Linked DNA regions of Homo sapiens. The protein of the gene in region 2 interacts with the protein of the main gene of each other region in a biochemical or structural test. Each region holds a gene or a part of one and is shown on either strand. Other genes may lie near its edges.

Region 1 (5,827 bases), on a different chromosome or scaffold from region 2:
TCTGCCCACATCCCTGCCTCTTTGTGTCCCAGCCCCTCCTGGAGGGAGGCTGGTGCCCAGTGGCGTGGCAGAGGGGATTTGCTTTGAGGGGCCCTTAATGGCTGCTCATGGGTTGCAATTACAATTAAGAATTGAACTCTGACCCTGCACGTGGGTTGGGAGGGTGGGACGTGGAGCCCAAGGGAGTGGCCCAGGGAGTCAGGCTTGCGTCTCTGCTGGGTGACCTTGGGCAAGACGCTTGCCCTCTTTGTGAAATGGGTCTGATAATGGCTCTGGGAGTGGGGATAGGGAGGGGCGGAGACCTGGCCTGACTCACAGTAGTCATCTTGGGTGTCGAGCCCCTGGGCAGGGGCCCTGTGTGTGTGTGTGTGGGAAGGGGGGGGTGGTGTTCCAGGCGTGAGGATGCCCTGGGCACAGCCACTTGTCCCAGGAGCTGTCAGAATCTTAGACCCAGAGGAGCCCTGAGGTGTTCCCGTCCATTCCCTTGCCCCTTTCTAGGCCACCAGAGTAAGGCCTCGAGGGAGGGATGTCTCAGGCCCCATTCCTCTTGGGACAGCTGAGTGGTCTCTGAGGGTGGGAGCTGGTTTGAGGCTTCTTCCGCAGCTGGCTTGGGCTTCCCCATCTGGGAAATGGAGCAGGGGCAGGTGGGGAGCTGAGTCATTTCCCTCCTTGGTCACTCGGAGGGAGAAGAAGGAAGTTTCCTGAGAGCTTTTGGTCCCCTGGGAGGCTGTTTCTCCCAGGAGGAGGAGGAAACCAGGACACAGTGTGCCAGGCAGGGCAGGGTGGGGGCTGCAGACTTCTGCGATGCCCCTTCTTTCTCCACTGCAGCCCTAAGTTGAGGACACACCTGATTCTGCGTACTGGCTCCACCATCTGGTAGTTCTGTAATTAAGCAAGTGACCACCCCTCTGTGCCTCAGTTCCTTCATCTGTAAAATGGAGCCAATGAGCTTATCCACCACAGATGGCCGCAGTGGTAATGAAATAATTCTAGCTGGGTCCATAGCACAGAGCTCAGAACATATTGAGTGCTCCGCCTGGCTGTTTTACCAGCCAAGTCAAGTGCTAAGCACTTTAGGTAGACTCATCTCATTTAATCCTTGCTACAGCCCCATGAGTGTAGTGATTTCTACTGACAACAGGGAAACAGAGGCACTGAGTGGTGAAGTGACCTGTCCCACAGCTAGTCAGTTGAGGTGGGATTCAAACCCAGGGCAGACTGATGTCGGTGAGTGCTGGGCTGGATTTCACCCACCAGCTGCCTGGGGCCAGGATCCTAGGGCTGGTGGGGCCTGCAGATCACTCTGCTCTGAGCCGCCAGCAATCTGGGTGCGGGCCAGAGAGCCGTCCTCCTCGGTTAGAATCCTGCAGCCAGTCTCCCTGCTGTGCAGACACATAATTATATTTCACATTAAAGGGGAAGCTGGAGGCCAAGGGGGCCAAGGAGCCCTTTGAGGCTCATGCTCTGGGCACAGACTGGCCTCCTCGGCCCAATTCTGAGGCCCTAGGGCCGAGCTGGGGGTCAGACTGGTGACAAAATGGAGTTCCCCTGGGTCAGTGTCCAGGCGAGCAGGTCTGTCTGCCAGGATGAAAGACTTGGCCCCTGCGGGAGGCTCAGAGATATGAGGCCCAGACAATAGGCCTCAGAAAGCTGGGAGGGCAGGGCATTTGGGGACAGGTTGGGAAGAAAGCCTGAGCCTCCAGAGACAGGGGCTCGAAAGAGAAGGGGGTCACATGGGGATCCGGTCGGCAGAGAGAGGTCCAGGGAGGAGCACAGAGAAGGCAGGAGATGGGAGAAGCCAAGCAGCTCAAGATGGAGAGGAGAAAAATGCTATTAGGGTGGGATGGTGTGTGTAGAGGGTGCGTGCCTGGTGTGCAGGGGAAAAGGGCTCTGTGGGAATGCACAAGCTTAGACCTGTGTGTGCGTATGCACACGTGCAGATGCCATCCTGCATGTGCACATATGAGCGAGTGTGCACATGTGCCCCTGCGAACATCATGCATGTGGGGGCATGTATCCTGCATGTTTATGCCTGTGTGTGTGCTCGCCATGCACCTGTGCGTGCGCGCGTGTCCCCGGCGGACGTGCCTGCATGTGTGTGTATGTGTGTGTGCGCGCATGTCCCCGGGAAGTCGTGCCTGTGTGTGTGTGTGTGTGTGTGTGTGTGTGTGTGTATATATATATGTGTGTGTGCGCGCGCGCGTCCCAGTGCGCAAGTGGCTGGCGGTGTGTGTGTAGGGGGCGGCCCGGGACTAGGAGGGGCTCGGGGCCAGGCCGGAGCCGTGGTAGGCTGGTGCAGCGGCTGCGCGGCGCGGCGCGGCGCGGGGCGGGCGTGCTCTCCGCGGAGAGTTAGAGGAGTTGCCGAGCTGAGCTCCGGTGGAGCGAGGCGCGGAGCTGGGTGCGCGCCGAGCCTCTGCCTCCCGCCGCCTCCTCGCCCTCCATTCCTCGCTCCCCGTCTTCTCCCGGCCACACCGCCACTGCTGCCGCCTCCCTGGGAACAGTAGCCGGGGGAGGGGGACTGGCGCGGTCAGAGCCTGCGAGGAGGTGCGGGGCGCCGGGGCGTAGGGGAGCGCGCCGGGCCCTGCCCGAGATCAGATAACAGCCGGCGGGGGAGGGGGTGGGCCGGCCGTGCTCACAGCCGGACCGAGGGACCGACGCCAGCCGCCCCGGCCCAAGCGAGCGCCCAGCGGCCGGGGGCGCCGTCCAGGCGCGCGCCCCCGACCCGTGGCTGGACCAGGGCGATCCGCTTTGCAGAGAAGACGCGCCCCTCGGCATGGAGCGCCCCCGGGAGCTGCCCTGAGGCGGTGGCGGCAGCGGCGGCGATGCAGCCAGCGCGGCAGCTGCCGGGGCCAGGAACGGCCGCCCGGAGCTTGGAGGACGCCGAGCGCGCCGCGCCCGGGCCACTGACCGAGGTAAGTGCGCGGCCGCGGGCGCATGGTCCCTCCCGGGCCCGGCCCCAGTTCCCCGCAGGCCGCGCCTCGCCACTAGCCCGGCCCGGAGCTAGCACGAGGTTGTGCAGCAACAGGGAAGGTGGAGCGGGAGGGTGTTTTCTTCCTCTCGTTTTATTTTTTTCCCTCCCTTGGTGAGACATCGGAGGAAATGCTGACTGCGAGCTTTTCTTTTCCTGCCATGTCTCCGGCTACCACCACAAGGAACTTTGCTCCTGGCTAACCTTCGTCCTGGGGGGCGCTCCGGGAAACTTTGAGGAGCCCTCGGCCCCCCTCTGACTGGTTTGCACTAGGGGGCTCGGGAGGGAGCGTGCGGAAGCACTCTGGCGCGCGGCACGGGTCCTACGCGTGACCTTCCCGGAGACCCCGCGATCGAGGTGGGGTTCGGAGGTGGGCGCCCGGGCTATATGAGCCGCCCCGAGAATGCCTCCCGTCAGAGACCTGCGGGTTCTTGGAGTCGTGTCTCTTTCTCACCTCCCGTGCTGTAATGGAGTAAAAATATTCTGGAAATGATTCCATGCCAGCAAGTCAGCCAAGTCCAGAGGCTCCCTTTTGCTTTTAGAAGTCGGCCTTGATCTCCGAGGGGATGGCCGCTGGCTGAGAAGCTCCCAGGGTTTCAGGGCCAGGGTCCACCCTGCGCGCGCACGGCCTCTCCGGGTGCCCTGGGGGAGCGGGGCGGGAATCAGGGGCTCATGGGCAGAGACAGCTGGGGTGGGGCGCTCCTTGGGGGGTTCAGATGGGAGTTGAGGCCCAAGCGAGTGTCTGTGCCTCGGTTTTGATCCAGCGTGCCCATGTCATGTGAATATTTTAAAACCTGTGATCAGAATGGGGGTCAAAGTGTTTCTTTGGGGACGGTCTTGTTCTGGGAGGTTTTCCTGCCTCCTCACAGCCTGGACTCGCCCGCACCTGGGACCTCCCCCTCCCCATTTCCCAGGGGGCGTTCCCATCTTAGAGTACCGCGCTGCCTGTGGCCATTTCTAGTTTCTTTTTTGCTCCCCTATACCCAGGTTCGAGCCCTGCAATAAAGCGCTGGGGACCTCCTGGCTCCCACATCTGCGCCCCAAACCCAGGTTCACAGGCTCCGTCTCCGAGAGCGCCGAGGCGCCCACACGCCACTGAAATCGGCAGCCGCCTTTGGAAGGTGCGAACCCGGAAGGCGTTAGCCTTGGGCCTAGCCTTCGCCCCCTCTGAGATGCCAAAGGAGAGCCGGTCCCTGGCCGCGCGGCTGGACCCCAGCCTCCCTCGCGCTGCGCTGCACCTCCGCGGCCCCTCCTCGCGCAGCTCCGCCCTGGACCGCCGCCCTGTGGCGGGCGAGGGTCAGAGAGGGGAGGTCCATCTCAGCCCTGGGCGCCACCAGAGGCTTTCGCTCTTTTTGAGGGGTACTCCCTTCTGTATTCTGAGAAGAGCCCCTCAGTGTCTGCTGGGACCGCCCCCCCCAACAAAAGACTTCACAGCGAAGTCTGCCCCTCAGTTCTCTGGTGGCACCTCCAACCAGACAGGGGACCCGAGGTTGGCAGCTCTAGGAGGGGGACCCTGGGGGCCTGCCATTTGGTGGGGCCAAGCCGCCTGAGAGAGAGCAGGGAGTGAGGGCGGAGGGCACTCACTCGAGCACCCTGGAGACGAGGAGGGTGGCTCCAGTGTGCTGGGCCACAGGGACACCCCTCTTCTCCACTGGAGGGCCGCTGTAGGCATACAGTAGGCAGTCTGTAAATGCTGGCTGTTGACCCAGAGCTGGCAGGTAGGGGCTCCAAGTCCTCTATCACCTCCTTTTTCCCCTCCCAGGGGAGGGCATGGCTGACACCCCTCATCCCCAGCACTGAAGGGGGTGGAGCCTTCTCTGGGAGGGGCAGGACCTGAGCTGTCAGTCCATCTCTGGACACTCCCCCTGCAGCTACCCCGTCAAAACCCCATAAGGTTTCCAGGCTGCCCCGGAGGGGACCCCTCCAGGAATGTGCCTCAACTGTGCTGGAAGGAAGAGGTGCCTGGGAAGTGGTGGAGGGGTATTGCCTAAAACCATGCAGTGGGTTGGGTTTGGACAGATGCCTTCACCTAGCTCTTTCCAGGCCAGGCGCTTACCCCACCAGCCTTCCTGCCCCAGGGCCATGGTGTCCCCATCCCTGGGTCTCCTTGAAGCAGGACAAAGTAACACTGAGTGGCCCTGCAACAGCAAAATAATAATGACAGCAGTGATAACAGGAGTAACAGCAGCAGCAGCACCTGCAGCTCTGCAGCACTGGGGCCGGTTCTGCCTATGGGCAGTTTTCTCTGCCTAGCCAGGCCTCCGGTACCCTGGGCCACAGTTGGCAGTACCAAGCGTGGCACCCGGAGGCCTTGGCATATGGCTGGGGCGGAAGTGAGTGCATCATTACTGTCATCAACCTCTGTGGCCCTCGCCAGGTCCCCAGGCAGAAGGCTACTGGTACACACGGTGCCCACCCAGTGGCCACCCTCACCCCCCCTGCTCCCAGGCCCAGCTCTGGGCTGGGCCCTTCCTCCAACAGGTGCAGCTGGTGCCTGTGGCTGGGCCCTGGCCAGGGCTTTACTGTGAGCGACACATGGGTACACCTGCCCCTCCCCGGGCCTGCCCTTGGAGCCCTGCCACCGGCTAGCGTGGAGGAGAGTCAGGGAGGGGGCAGCTTGCGGGCAGCAGGAGGGGTGGAGGCTTGGCTGGCCACATGGAAGGTGCGGTGGGTGGGGGCTCAGCCCCACGGGATGGCTGTGCCGGGAACTGGCAGCGTGATGGGGACACGGCAGCAGGGAAAGGCTGAAGATGAAAGAGAGCTGGCCTGAAACTGGGCCGTGTGCAGGTTGGCCAGAGCTTCAGAGGCACCATGGGGTTGGGGGTGGGGGGGGGCCTGGCAGAGGCAGGTGGGTTTTCT
Region 2 (5,085 bases):
ACCATTCATCCATCCTACTTCTTTCAAAAATGCAAAGCATTTGCAAATTGTTTTGAAAGCAAACTATTCACTCTTGGCTAGAAAAACAACCTTTAAAGGACAGTGATGGATAAATGGATAGGTTGATTGATCTTATAGCAGTTATCCAAATTATTACGAGTGGGCCAGGCTTGAAAAAAAAATCACAAGTCAATTATAGAAATTAGCTTCCAGCAAATCAGAACTGAAGTTAAAAAGAACTTGACCCACATCATCTTGCTACATCTCTGTAAGCTGAATGCTCACTGTGATCAAAGACATCCTTCCCATGAAATTGGGAAGTGAGTTAAAGGTGGCTGATAGTGTGTTGAAACTGATTATACTTAAAAAAAAAAATTGTCGTGGGGTGAGGAGGGGATAGAAATAAATGTACCTTACCCAGTAAAAATGACTTAAAAAAATCAGATACTAAGACAAAATGGTTCTCCACGTAAACAGTGATTTGTATTAGAGTCACACAAATTTCTCCAGCTAATATCAATTGGAAAGTGTTCTTCAGTTATAAGACTGCTTCCAATTTTATAGATCCAGTATTTTAAGGCTCCTTCTCTTTCTGGTTCCTGGAATCCTTTGCTTTTTATTACCTATAAACTATACCTCTCTTTTCTGACCAACAGTATATTTTAAAATTTCCTTTGTGTTTCTCTTACTTAATGAAAACAAAAACAAAAGCATAAAAAGATTTTAACACTAATGATGGTGAATGACAGCAATAATTTTATCTTCCCTCCAAAGGTAGGATTGAATCCATTGTTTGTCAATAGGGGTGATTTTGTTCCCGGGAGCACATTTGGCAATGTCTGGAGACATTTTTGTTTGTCACGATCACGGGAGGGTGCTACTGGCATCTTGTGGGTAGAGACCAGGGGTGCCGCTAAACATCCCAGAATACACAGGATGTTCCCCGTAACTCCCTAACAAAGAATGATCTGTTCCCAAATGTCAATTACGCCACAGTTGAGGATCCCTGGTTTAATTAATGTGGCCTCTGGCCTGCAGGGCCTCTTGCTGGCTGTTGTGCATTGAAGCTGGTCTGAGCAGTAAGCAATTGCATGATTGAAACATAGAATGATTTCACAATTCTATCTTCTATCCACAAGGTCTCAGAGGCTACGCAAACTTTTCCTGGATGGGCACATGAACACATACCTCCCTGCTACAGTACGGAGTCCATAACTTGTGAGAAAGAAATAGGTTTCTATATGAATACTTATTTTTCATTAGTGTTAGAAACATGTTAATAGTTAGAAAAAAGTTACACAGTGTTACTGCTTCTGAAAATATGGTACTAAGTATTTTATTCATGAGCTAATTTTAAACATTTAAAAAATGCATTCAAGCCTCTCTCTTTATAATTTTCTTTTAAGATGGAAATGTGATACCTTTTTACCCGGTGGTACCAAGTTTTGATTTGCTTTGACAAGGTGTGAAAGTGCTTTCTTTATGTTCTTCTCTTTCATGCTTTGCAGCACAGCAGAGGGAAGAAAAGTCTCTAATCCCCATTCTTTTCTGCAATAAAGAGCATATCTTTAATTTCACATTTCTGTGATGATGAGTTATCTAAGACAAAATGGTGCTCTGATGTTTGTTGGAACAAATGAACCCTTGGTGAGGCAGAGAATGGAGACAAGTCCCCAAAGGAAGTAACTTTTAATTTACACTCAGGACACACACTACTTGATCATTAATACACATGTTTGCATTTAAAAAGAAATCTGTTCCTCATTCTCTAGAGACAATGCTAAGGAGGCATTTGGAGCCAATGTAAAGTGAAGAGACATTTTGTCCAACCAACTTCTGAATCTCTTCAAAGTCACTCACGTATCCGAGTTTGTATTTCCAACACCAATTTCTCTCCATCCCTTTGTTGATTTCTATTCTCCAATCTCCCTGTCTGCTCATATTCTTCCTCTCTTAGAAGAATGGATGCAAGTCCTTCATGTCCCCAAACCATTCTTCCCTGTCCCTCCCCTCCTCCATGGCTATTTCTCTAGGCACACACAGTTCTTTTGTCCCAGCCAGTTCCTGTCTAACTCCCTCCATCAACATTTCTTGCTGGTGGTGTGGAATTGGGTGTGATTCATGACTCTTAAGTGTGCCCAGTATTGATGTGGAGATGCTGTTCTCATTCATGGACGTGGATGTACAACAAAACAACAACAAATGGGACTGAGTTAATACATTTTTACAAAGAGCCAATTTCACCAGAAACGACTACCACCCCCTTCTAAGAAGGTCCCATATTTTGAATTCTAGGAAATCTATCCTGGAGTAGAAATCCTACCCTAGGTTATGTGTCTAACCAGTGTCTTCTAAATTATGTGAAGACCTTCAAGAGGATTCCAGTTATTTCTCCTGTTCTAGGTCCTCTCCAAAGAAGGGTAGGAAGACAACCTACCCCCACCACTTGACCATTCATATTCTTCACTAGTTAAGATGGTATATTTCATGATCATTATGTTTTCTTCCTTCTCAACTTGTACTTATTGTCTTATCCATCATTTGGCACTACTTATGGGCTTTCTTGTAATCCTACTTGTATCATTATTTTAAATAATTACTTTTCCTATCTTTATATCTTGTTTTTACAATCAGACCACAAGTTCCTCAATGGCCAGGAATATAATTCATACATATTAGTATTTTCTACTATCCTAATGTGAGTGCTATATAAAATGCTCAATGAATATTTGTTGGTCAAAGGAATTTATGAATGAGAACATTATTACAGACTTTTCAGGATTCTTACTCAAGCCAGATATCTCTGAGACGTTTTTGACCATACAATGTTCAACCTGGTAAAATGTGGGTACACAAAGTAGGAAAAGAAATGCATTTTAATTGTCTGAAAATCAACTCCGGTTGTGCAGGCCACCTTTTCAAATGGCAGCCAGTTTCACCTGTCCCCAAGAACTTTAAAAAGGAGAGTGGAAGAGTGTGTGAATGTGTCCAGCTGAGCACGAGATCTCTTTGTGAGCCAAGTCTTTCTCAGGCTACAGTCACGCTTATGTGTGGGGAGAGAGAGAAAGCATCTGGAAGGAGTGAACTGAAGGCCTGAGGTTCTCAAATTGCATATGAGGATTTGTCCCTACATGTCAACAGGTGACTGAGAGTTGTCAGAACAGTGGTGTTGAAGTCAGCAAGTTGGAGATTTAATCCTTCCCAACACAGGCTCATGAATTTATTGAGAAAAGCCATTTTGCCCCCTGGTGGGTGAACCTGGCATTGTGGAATTTAGAAAGGCTTTCTAGGCAGCCCATGAGAAGTTTCTTTGGAAAGTGGGATTTTAATTAGTTTATACATCTTTTGGAGGTGAGATTGTAAGCAGGGTGTGGGGGGAGGTCCAAGGCTTTAGCATTACATGTGTTTCCAAACACAGGTGCCTCAACCCATCACACAATCTATAGCACAACGGGGAGTCCCACTGCCTGGGTTTGAATCCTATATCCCCGCGTTAATAGCCATTTGACTTGGGCAAGTTATTCTATGACTCGGTTTGCTCGTCTGTAAAATGAAGCTAAAATCCTACTAATCTCATAGGGGTGTTGTGAGAATTAAACAAATTAATGTGTGAAAAGTGCTAAGACCAAAGCTTGGCTTGGAATCAAGCCCCTTTAGGAATTCAAAAATTTATGCTTCGTTTTAAATATGTCCCTCATCTTAACTACAATGCTCTAAAGGTGGATTAGAAATGGATCTCTTCTGCCAGAAATGAGCATGATATTCATACATTTTGCCACTGGCGAATGAATGCTTTGACACAAACAAGATCAATTTTGGACAAATAACAAAAATACACCCGGGCTAAGGGAGGCGGCATGTCTGTCTCCGAAATGGCGCTGAGAGTCAACACTTACTCGATGTATTTGAGGGAGATTTTCTGCGTTTGCTTGGTGGTAACGGTTGCAATGTACATTTGTAATGCGGCCAGCCGCAGGGCTATGTCATATTTCAGCTCCGGCCCAAATCGCTCCTGAACCACATCGTTACAACTCTGCGAAGAGACCAGCAGGGGGCACAGCTTGTCAAAGAATAGGCCGCAGCGCGTGGACTTACAGAACAGGTGACATACATTTCCCGAGTGATTCAACCTTCACTTCCCAGGCAAGGAGGCTAAATGTGGAAACATCTCCACCGTGCTGCTTGGAAACGAGTCAGTATTGAATTGCAAGCGCAAACACAGAGACCACACAAAACATTTAGCATTCATCGACGAGCTGCTATTTAAATATTTAGCTTTTTGTAAAAACAATTAGGAATTTAGGTATGAAATTTCCAAACACAGGTGCCGCAGTTGAATGCACACAGCATTGATAGCATAATGTGGCTTCTGGAGTTAGGCTGCCGGAATTGGAATCTTAGGCTTGAAACTTGTTTCTCCACTTCATTAGGGGCACAAACTTGGGCACCTTCTTAATTGTCTGTGCCTCAGTTTTCTCTTCTGTAAATTGGGGATAATACTGCTCCCTCTTCACTGGGTTGTGGTGACCATTAAATGAGTGAACCATGAAAAGTTCTTAGAATCCCAGCACTTTGGGAGGCCAAGGCGGGTGGATTACGTGAGCCCTGGAGTTCAAGACCAGCCTGGGCAACATGGCGAAATCCAGTCTCTACAAAAAACACAAAAATTAGCTGGGCATGGTGGTGTGTGCCTGTAGTCCCAGCTACTAGGGAGGCTGAAGCAGGAGGATCGCTTGAGTCCAAGAGTTTGCGGCTGCAGTGAGCCTTGATCACACCACTGCATTCCAGCCTTGGCAAAAGAGCAAGACCTTGTCAAAAAAAAAAAAAAAAAAAAAAAAAGAAGCCAAAACAAAACCCCAAAAGCTCTTAGAACCGTACTTGGCAGGGTGTAAGCCCTCTTACATGTTTACTACTGTCACTGCTAACATCATTCTCCTCCTCCTCCTTATCAGCCACAGCAGCTGCAGGGAGGCAGAATTAGCACGGTGAGTGAGCACAGTGGCTTGGGACTCATATCCACCTGTTCTGGCGTTCTGCCTTTCCCAGTGGCTACCTGTGTAAGTAATTTTAGACCATTCACTTTAA
Region 3 (5,085 bases), on a different chromosome or scaffold from region 2:
TAGGTATTTATTATTCTTGATGTGCTTTATTGGTATCAAGATAAATGGGTCATGCCATCCATCAGTCAGCCTTCACCTCTGTCTGATTCTCAGTTTCTTCAGTTATGAAGGGTATATAACCTGAAGGGCTGCGAAGATCAGACGTGATCAAGAATGAAACATACACTTTAAAGTACAAAGTCGGCTGGGTGTGGTGGCTCACGCCTGTAATCCCAGCACTTTGGGAGGCTGAGGCGGGCAGATCACTTGAGGTCAGGAGTTCAAGACCAACCTGGCCAACATGGTGAAACCCCATCTTTACTAAAAATACAAAAATTAGCCAGGTGTGGTGGCAGGCACCTGTAATCCCAGCTACTCGAGAGGTTGAGGCAGGAGAATTCCTTGGACCCGGGAGGTGGGGATTGCAGAGAGCTGAGATCGTGCCACTGCACTCCAAGCTGGGTGGCAGAGTGAGACTAGCTCTCAAGAAATTTAATTAATTAATTAACTAAAGTTAAAAACAATAAATAAAGTGCAAAGTCAACACAAGAGTAGAAGCATAGAAAGGATATTAAGGGGAATTTAACAATCTGCTTCACTACTCCCTCCTAGAAGTTTACTCCTAGAGAAATATGCTTTGCCTTTTGTTTTTCAATCTTTCAAACACTTATATAACAACAATAATGTCCTGGCTACCATTTTAACTATTTTATGTGCATTTTTGGACTTGATCCTCAAAACAATATTGGGAGGTAGGAGTTATTATTTTCTCTATCTTACAAAGGAGGAAGTTGAGGTCTCTATCTCTTACTATTTTCTCTGTTGCATAGTTTTCTTTCTTTACCCCTCACAGGTCCACAGGGCTAATCTGATCACCAACTAAAATGGGGAGACATCTATTGCCAAGTAAAGACAATACTAGAATCAATTTAAATTTTAGAGCCTTAAATACAACCTGAGGAAAATCTGTTCTCTGAATGTGTGACCATAACAGTTTTGAATGCACTTAACAAGTTCTAAGACTGACTTGCCCAAGTGAGGAGTGATCATAAAAGTTTTTCTAGATCACTGTTTGTTATATTATTCTTCAAGATTATCAGGGAAGGAGGCACCACATTTAGATACACTTGTTTTTATAACTATCCTTTAGTATAGATTTATAATCTAAAACAAGTTACCAGAAAACATTCTCATGAAAAAATGAAAGTTTAACAGACTGTATTAAAATTTTAGATTATACTGCTTTCATGGGACAATTGTTTGTTTACTCAGTAAGTTTTTAATAGGCTTTGATCAAATTCATCAGTAGTTCAAAAAACTGGCCAGGCCTGGCACAGTGGCTTACTCCTGTAATCCCAGCACTTTGGGAGGCCGAGATGGGTTGATCATCTGAGGTCAGGAGTTCGAGATTGGCCTGGCCAACATGGTGAAACCCTGTCTCTACTAAATAGACAAAAATTAGCTGGGCTTGGTGGAGGGTGCCTGTAATCCCAGCTACTTGGGAGGTAAGGCAGGAGAATCACTTGAACCTGGAAGGTAGAGTTTGCAGTGAGCCGAGACTGCGCCATTGCACTCCAGCCTGGGCAGCAAGAGAGAAACTCTGTCTCAAAAAAAAAAAAAAAAAAAAAAAAGAGAAAAGAATTAGCCAGTGCTTTAGCTCCCAGGTATGAAATTTAAGACTTCTGAAATTCAAACATATTTGTTGAAGTTGGGTCCACTGGTGGTTTAAACAACAAAAACTGTTCCCCTTTGTTCAAAATTGTTTGAAAGAAAAATTTGTATTAGGAACAGACAGAAATGAACAAATGGCAATTTTGTGTGTTTTAGCCTGCCTGAGACACGGGTAAGGTAACTTTTATGCTGTGCCAAGGTCTAGGTTAGTCAGACACAAAACCCGTCCACCGTGACCTAACCTCAGAGATCCCAAACACATGCTCTTAAAAACCAACAGCAGTGTTTTCTTTATAATTCTGGAACAGCTTTCTGACTCTGCTCTTGCTGTCATTTTACTGAAAAGCAGAGAAGGAGAAAGAAAAGAAGAAGAAGAAGTATGGGGGGTGTGGCGGGATTTAGCCTCCAAAGAAATTAATTTTTTGGGTGTTTTTCTGTGTAAAAGGGTAGACACTATTCATTCTTGCTTAACGAGCACATTTAATTTGAAGGCTCTTGGTTCTGATCAGATTTCAGACAACCAGTAAAGATTCCTACTGGGCAATAAAATAGCCAGGGCTGCAATCTGCCACCCATCTGCCCTCTGCAAAGAACCCATCCAGCTCTTCCTAAGGGCAATATTGCTATCTCTGCCGTCAGCCTAGCTTTGGAATTATGCAGAAAAGCCAACCCACCAAAGCTCAGTCACTCCCAGTTTCAGCCTTTTGGGGAACTTATTGCTCTCTCTTACTGGCCAAATGTACCTAGAAAGAAAATATCCAAATAGAGACTTTTTAATGTTCATCAGGAAAGTGAATCTCTATAAATATGGCACATGAAGCCAAGACCCTTCTTGAGTACATCCTACCTAAATGGAGAATCAGGAAATGAGTCTGAAATGGCAAATGCTCTAATTACTGCTCTTGGGAAAATGCCCTTTCTGATAGCACAGAATGTGACCTTCATTGCCACATGGTCCATAGAAAGCTAGGCAGACTGTCCAGGCATTCAAAAACCCCTGACTATTTTGCCCCACCCCCACCCCCACTTTGTTACTATTCCATAGTAGCTATGTACTGCCTGGGGCTAGCTTGTTTGATCTGCAGCTGCAGAAACAAAGCCATTTAAACAAAATGTAAAAGGTTATGAAGAGGAAGAGAGAGTTAGTGAGGTCTGAACAAAGAGTGAAATATAGGCTTTTACACCAAAGGAAGGCTTTAAATTGAATGTATCTTCAGGAAAAATCAATTTGCCTTTTCCTTTCTTGTCATAATTTCTCCATGCAACATGACTCTTGCCAATTACTGAAGGGTGTATTGTTGCATAAATTCTTGCACAGTGAAGTTTATCCTACAAAATAATCACATAATGCAGCATCTGTGATGTCACAATCGGTTTCCATGGTGATGAGGAAAAAGAGAAGCAAAGAATGGGGCAATGGGGGCGGATCACACCAGTGACATGAGAGTTGCTCTGGTAGCAGTGGAAATGCTACTTGTAAAACCATCCTTAGCTCCAGGATCGTAGAGCTATCACTGAGACAATTGCGCAGTGAGTGACAAGAGAGATAAGCGGAGAATGTGAGCCATCTATGAGACAGGTATCTTTTCAGAAACATAATTTTACAACAGCCATTAAAGAGAGTAGCAAAAGAATCAACAAGCATGCAAGGGTGAAAATTAAGAAACATAAAGCCAAAAAACAAACTGAGAAGCTACAGCTTTCGTCTAGTCTCAGTCACACATCCTGCCTCTTCCTACCTGATCTGCCATCTCGCTGAATGTCCACATGGTACCATTCCCCATCATTGGCTTTCTTCTGAGTGGCTTTCACTTTGATGGTGCCAGAGCCCATGTCAAGCAGCAAGTACAGGTTGCCATCGAGGAGTTCCACGGCAAAGAAGTCTACTTTTGTATTCTTCTGGCTCCGAGCATCCTTCCTCTCTTGGGGCTTTCCATGAGTGAAGAGGATCAGGCCATTGGGCTCTGTGGTGCGGAAGTCAAAGGAGATGGAGCCCATACGTTTAGTGTTCCACTTGGGCAAGCTGATGTAAGCCTCTGGGGTCTCAAAGTTGATGGGGTCCAGTGTGGCCACATTCTCACACTTAAACACAACTTCGCCATAGATTTTCATCTTGGTGTCCGCAATCCGGGCCAGGCGAGACAGCTCCAGACGGATGTCATTATTCTTATAAACAACCTGTCAAAAGCCAAACAAAAGTGCCATGTGAATCAATCTTGCAAACAGTATCCATCCATCACTCACTGGGCACCTGGAAAAATGACCCAAAAAGAGGCTTCAGGACATAGCCCAAAACAACATGAGAAACAATGAGACACAGGAACCAAAAAGGTATCTGAAGAAACATCTGATGTGCACACAAGCTCCAAAAAAGCCTCTATATTTCTACAGAATTTCTTTTGTCTCCTGGCCAATTTCTTGTGTTGTCAGAAAGTTATACAACATAAGCTTGCAAATAAAAATCAAGAGAGATCGAGTTGCATGGATTCACATACTTCATACAAAGTGATTTACTGAAGCACCCTTAGTAAAATACCAGAAACAACCTAAATGACCATCAATAGCAGATGGCACAGCGTTATAATGGAATATTAGGCAGGCCTTGCAAACAAGGTATTGCTTTTGGTTTTGATGTGGAAGCTCTCCAGGTCACATTGTTAAGTGAAATTGTCAAGGAACAGGATAGAGGGTGCATTATGTTATCATTGTGTAAAAGTGTGGGGGCGTGGGGGCATTATATGTATATATGCTCCAGTAAGCATAAAGTCTCTTTGGAACTATAAAATTGTCATTGGGGAGTATATTTGCGGGATTAATATTCTGGAGTGGGAGGGTGACTTACTTTTCACTGTGCCCTCTTACAGTGTTAGACTTTTTTTCAACCATGTGGATATATTACTTGAAAGAAAAGAGTAAGTGTTAAAAGCTGGTGGGGACAGAGGTCTGTTTTTGTTTTTATTTTTTGCACATTGCATGTGCCCTCTGTACAGTGGTAGAATGAGACACCCTGAAGCCCTATTTCAGCCAGTCAGTCAAGGACATTGATTTAGTTGAGAGTCTGATTTTACAAAGAATACTGAACCAGATACTAATTCACCTTGCAAGGGGGTCCAGCAGAGCTTTCTGCCTCCATGCCCTACCCAAGGTTAGTGTACACTTCTGCAAAGCCATGGCCACTGTCCTGCAGAGTGGGTAGGTAGGTGGAGAACGTGAGGATGGCAGTTAAAAAAATCTGTTATGACTGTCTAACAGCCACTATGGAAAACAGTGTGGAGATCCCTTAAAGAACTAAAAGTAGAACTACCATTTGATCCAGCAATCCCACTACTGGGTATCTACCCAGAGGAAAAGAAGTCATTATAAGAAAAAGATACTTGCACAGGCATGTGTATAGCAGCACAATTTCCAATTGCAAAATTGTGGAACCAACCCAAA
Region 4 (5,085 bases), about 38 Mb from region 2:
AATTGCAAACATCCTCTCATTACCTTCCCCAGAATCTGAAGTCCCGTAAATCCACTGGTTTTAAGACCATAATTCTTCCCAAAGAGTACCCTCTGGGTTCCTTCATGGGTGAAGCTTGGTAGAAAGACTGTCTGAAAAGGGTGTCTCCTTTTGTTCTTGCAGTGTCAGTTGGCAGTCATCCCACTTGGAACCGGCAATGATCTGGCTCGTGTTCTGGGCTGGGGTGCATTCTGGAACAAAAGCAAGTCACCTCTGGACATCCTCAACAGAGTGGAGCAGGCTAGTGTGAGGATCCTAGACAGGTAAGTGGCTGAAAGACCAGGCCCTTGTGCCTCTTCCTGTCCCACATCACTCACATCATCTCAATCAGGAATACTTTAACCTCTCTGATTGATAGAGCCTCATTTCCTTTCTGGCTTCAGTGCAGAGCCATTTGTGGGTTGGGTGGGGCTTGTCTCTTGGGAAGCCAGGGTCTACCATGTATCCTTCAAACATTGAAGCCCCTCTTCAAAACTAAAGGATCCTACTGGGAAGTTAAGGCTGCAGTGGGCCATGATCATGCCAATGCATTCCAGTCTGGGCAACAGAATGAGACCCTGTCTCAAAAAAACCAAAACAAAACAAAAACAACAACAACAAAAACACCAAAAAAACTAGACGATTCTAGAGCAGGGGCCCCATGGATAACGTTCAAGGGTTCAGTGAACCCTCTTCAAATTGCAGAGCCAATGATCTGTTTAAGCATATTCTCTCTTGGGGAAAAGTCTATAATTTCATCAGATTTTCAAAGAAACTAAAAAAGGGATGGAGGGAGAGTTTAGAAATAACTTGCTTACATTGTCACTGCTCTAGAGAAGAGCAAGTACTACCATCCTATCTCCTGAGGAAAAAAAGACTTTCTATGCTGGTGTATATAGGAGCATTTGATTTATTGCTGCCCATAAGGATCTCCTGGGGAGCTTTTTAAAAACATCAACCTGAACCCCACCACAAAGATTCAGTAGGTCTTGGCAGGGCCCTGGAATGTGTATTGTACAAAAGCACCTCAGATGATCTTGATGGTTACCTCTGGTTAAGAAGCACTGCTCTCTGAGAACCCTGTAAAGGGAAGGCAATTCCTTCCATCACACTGGCCTACAGAAGTCATGAGACAGAGGTCCCTCTTATGGTCACCTTGAGATCAGGTGACCAGAGATTGCTTGGACACCCCCTACAACCCACCTCCCCCCACCACATAAACATTTTTACTTCTGTCTTCACCTTTGAAGCACTAATTTTTACCAGTCATGAAACAGACCCTTAAATATCCGTCTTTGAAATTCATTTCAGATGGAGTGTGATGATTCGTGAGACTCCCAGACAAACCCCGCTGCTAAAAGGACAGGTTGAAATGGATGTACCACGATTTGAGGTAACTACTGTTCAGCTGTAATTCAGACCAATATCTTTATTACTCAGTGAAATAATTGGCAAAACCCAGAGAGAAGCTTTTGCATTGTGCATGGATGAGGATGAGATCATTGAGAGTTGGTGACATGTCAGTCAGCAGCTATTTACCAAGAACTATGTTAAGCACTGGGGATATAATTCATTCACTCATTTACTTATTCATTCAAAATATTTATGGAGTAACTACTTTATGTGAGATATTATTCTAGGAGATGTTCTTATATGCTACTGGGTAAAGAAGAATGACATAGTCTACTTGAATAGATGGAAAAATAAATTGTTTTAATCAAGTAGTATGAGTGTTAGTATATAAGGAAGTAGAGGGGGTTGGGAACACATAGCAGGAAGATCTATCTCAGTCTGGGGAAATCAGGGAAAGCCGCTCAGAAGGAGTGCCATTTCACAAGATACTTGAGATCCAGAGGGAATTAACCAGGAGAATAAGAAAGGGGAGGGCTGTTCCACACAGATGGAACAGCGTGTATTGTTCCAAAGGCAAGGGAGAGCATGGAATATTCACGAAACTGAAGTACATTCATAATGGCTGAGGCGTAGGGGCCAGGAAGGGGGCATTCAGGGAGAGTGACTAAAGATGAGGCTAGAGAAGTAATCAGGGGCCAGGCCAGAAAGGGCCTGATAAACCACAGTAGGAAGTTTGGATTTCATCCTAAGAGCAATAAGAATTACAGAAGATTTTTTTCTTATCTTATTATGAAAATTTCTACATTGATGAAAGTTAAAATGGTAGCTCTACTACTAACATTTTCCTATGCGTGCTTTATCACATATCCAGTCATCTATCCAGTCTGCTATCTAAGAGAAGGGGTTTAAGTAGAGGAGTGCCATGGTATGTGGAGAAACAATTGAAGGAATAAAAGACTAGAGGCAAAGAGAAAAGCTAGGAGATGTTGTAATTGTCTAGGCAAGAGGTGATGGTGATTTGGACTGGTGAAGTGGTAGCAGGGATGAGTAGCAGTGGATACATTTGAGACATACTCAAAAAATAGAATTATCAAGTCTTGGTAGATGTTTGAATGTCAAGGGTGATAGAGAGGAAGGAGTAGAAGTTGTAATTAAGAGCACAGACTCAAGAGCCAGACTACCTGGAATTGAATCCTGGCTCTACAATTTATCATCTTTCCCTTCTCTGGGCTCAGCTTTCTCTTCTGTGAAATGGAGATAATAACAGTCTTTATCTCATAGGGTTGTTATGAGGATTATATGAAAAAATATACATGTAGCTTAGAACAGAGCCTGGCACATAGTCAGTACTATATAAGTGGGTGCTGTTATTATTGGTAGTAATATTATTAAAGAAGTTACATTCTGGAATTGGAAAGATGTAGATTCGAATCCAGCTTTATTCCTTACTAGCTATGTAATATGAGATTGTTTGTTCATTTGAAACATGAAAGAAATAGTACCTCCTTCATATGAGGTTTTGATTATTAAGAGAAAATGAAATACATCTAAATTTTTAGAATACGCATAGATCTAAGATCATCTCTGTTGACCTTCAACAAGAATTCTTTGATCATTATCATTTCCAGAGAGGCAGTTGAGTTGCGGGTAGAGTCAGTAAGAAACAATGAGGCTGCAGGGGATGAGGATGGGCAGCACACTGTGTTATTGTACTAAGATTCCAGGGCTAAGAACTCCTTTTGCCCCTAGGCTGCTGCCATCCAACACTTAGAATCTGCAGCCACCGAGTTGAACAAAATCCTGAAGGCCAAGTACCCCACAGAGATGATCATCGCAACCAGGTCAGTCTTCCTTTGGCTCTCATCCTTTGGGGCTGTTCCCAGGTCAGACATGGGGCTCATTTTGATAGCTGAGGGTGTTGAGGCCAAGGAAAATACATGTTTATGTTCCCAAATCAGATTTCTCCCAACTCAAACCCCCTGAATGGAAAGTTTAGGAAAGAAAGATGACATTGAGGTGAAGTCGTCTGCTGCTCCAAAAAGTCAAAATTGCAAGCCAGAGATTTGGGAAGAGAATTATAGTAGGGAAACACAACATTATAGACCATTTAGGAGCATAGCATAGCTCCCTATAGTATAGACACCTTGCTTTCCGTCTTTGACATTAAGAAAGGTCTCTGCAATATCTGCCTATAGCTGCTTTCTCATAACCTGAGGAACACATTCCCCCTTCTAAATATGTGGGTCATTTGTTTCTTCTGGGACTTCTTAGGGGGCTCCTGCCCAGTCGACTACACTCTCCTTTGAGAAAAACTTCCCACAGGGAGAGTCCTCCCAATATAATTGTTTGTACTAAATTAGCTGGGCCCTTGAAACATAGCTGATTGAACCTAGGTGAAAACCTGACCCAAGTTGGACCAAGTGAATTCTCTTTTCTGGAAATTCAGAATTAGTACTAAGAAATGCTGGTCAAGCTCTATTAGGTTCTTGACTTGGGAAGTGGTGTGACACTGAACTAAAGTGGGGATGGAACATATTTCACCATATGCACAGGAAAAAAAAAGCAGAGAGAAAAAGGCTGGGAGCAGAGGGTGAGAGAAAGAGGACAGATCAGGAAAGAGAGAGAGGAGGAGGATGGGGACTGATGACATAAGAGAGAAGGGCTCTGGGCCTCATGGTTCATGTAACATTGTGCCATCTATTTTATCTTTCCAGATTCTTGTGTTCAGCTGTGGAAGATTTTGTGGTTGATATTGTAAAGGCCTGGGGTCAGATAAAACAGAACAACACTGCAATAGTGTCTGTGATTTTGAAAGTAAGTTCCCATTCCTTTTGTCTTATACTCTTTGTGGAGCAGCCAGGGGCCCTTTTTAATAAAAAGCAAACATGCCTCTCACTGGGAATGGTAAAAGAAAGGAAAGGAGGGGCAGCTGTTAAGCCTCCCTGATGAGGAAGGTCTAACCTCATTGAACTTCCATCTTTTGCTAAATGAAGGATGGCGCTCTGCATGCATACACACATACCATGTACATGCCAAGCATCTGCCCACAACTAGACACAAGTGTACATCAAGCAGGTATGTGCATGGTTGTACACCAGAACATGCTTACAAGTATGTACATACGAATACACACTACAAATACATTCACATTTACCTCTCTAACAACAATAGCCAACATTTATATAGCACTTACTCTGTGTCAAGGACTGTTCTGTTTTTAATGTATTAATGTATTTATTCCTCACAACTACCCTAGAATATGGAGGCACAAAGCGGTTAAGAAACTTGCCTCAGATCGCAAACTATTAAGTGATGGAGCTAAGAATCAAGGCCTTAAATCATGCAGCAGATGTAGGTCCCCAAGCCTGTACACATACAAAGACACACACCAAGCACCCAAGCAGGGACACGTTCATATCCAGAGGAGCGTGCCCATGAAAATCCAGAAATATTTGTCTTTCCTCAAGTTTGCATGTTATACATTGTTTTATAGGCCCGTTTGACACAAGAAAGACTCAGCTATATACACTGATGCATGGGGCCACTCAGAAACAAATGATATGTGTTTGATCTCCTAACACCCTTTGGTTATCTCATCACATCTTCCCACCTACTTCTTTTGCTAAGTACTTCATCTTCTCACATGTGGTTTTCTATGCTCAGCATTTATGGACAACTCTTACCCCTCCCTACCCTTCCCCATATCACCACCAC

What was found. Proteins that work in one complex are often made in the same cells at the same time.
Region 1: the proteins of FRMPD4 (region 2) and KCNJ12 interact in a test that uses a peptide from one of them, tested with the Homo sapiens proteins (one large-scale study listed by IntAct).
Region 3: the proteins of FRMPD4 (region 2) and NRXN3 interact in a test that uses a peptide from one of them, tested with the Homo sapiens proteins (one large-scale study listed by IntAct).
Region 4: the proteins of FRMPD4 (region 2) and DGKK interact in a test that uses a peptide from one of them, tested with the Homo sapiens proteins (one large-scale study listed by IntAct).

What each region holds. Positions count from the first base shown.
Region 1 is NC_000017.11:21,374,002-21,379,828, forward strand, and holds the start of KCNJ12 (ATP-sensitive inward rectifier potassium channel 12), read left to right. Parts: upstream 1-2,355; 5' UTR 2,356-2,912; intron 2,913-2,918; exon of another isoform or gene 2,919-3,325; intron 3,326-5,827. UniProt on the Homo sapiens protein: Inward rectifying potassium channel that probably participates in controlling the resting membrane potential in electrically excitable cells. Probably participates in establishing action potential waveform and excitability of neuronal and muscle tissues.
Region 2 is NC_000023.11:12,700,822-12,705,906, reverse strand, and holds part of FRMPD4 (FERM and PDZ domain-containing protein 4), read right to left. Parts: intron 4,034-5,085; coding exon 3,897-4,033; intron 1,549-3,896; coding exon 1,422-1,548; intron 1-1,421. UniProt on the Homo sapiens protein: Positive regulator of dendritic spine morphogenesis and density. Required for the maintenance of excitatory synaptic transmission. Binds phosphatidylinositol 4,5-bisphosphate.
Region 3 is NC_000014.9:78,707,960-78,713,044, reverse strand, and holds part of NRXN3 (neurexin 3), read right to left. Parts: intron 4,264-5,085; exon of another isoform or gene 3,829-4,263; coding exon 3,390-3,828; exon of another isoform or gene 3,085-3,389; intron 1-3,084. UniProt on the Homo sapiens protein: Neuronal cell surface protein that may be involved in cell recognition and cell adhesion. May mediate intracellular signaling. Functions as part of a trans-synaptic complex by binding to cerebellins and postsynaptic GRID1.
Region 4 is NC_000023.11:50,386,654-50,391,738, reverse strand, and holds part of DGKK (diacylglycerol kinase kappa), read left to right. Parts: intron 1-162; coding exon 163-302; intron 303-1,329; coding exon 1,330-1,411; intron 1,412-3,120; coding exon 3,121-3,212; intron 3,213-4,085; coding exon 4,086-4,185; intron 4,186-5,085. UniProt on the Homo sapiens protein: Diacylglycerol kinase that converts diacylglycerol/DAG into phosphatidic acid/phosphatidate/PA and regulates the respective levels of these two bioactive lipids.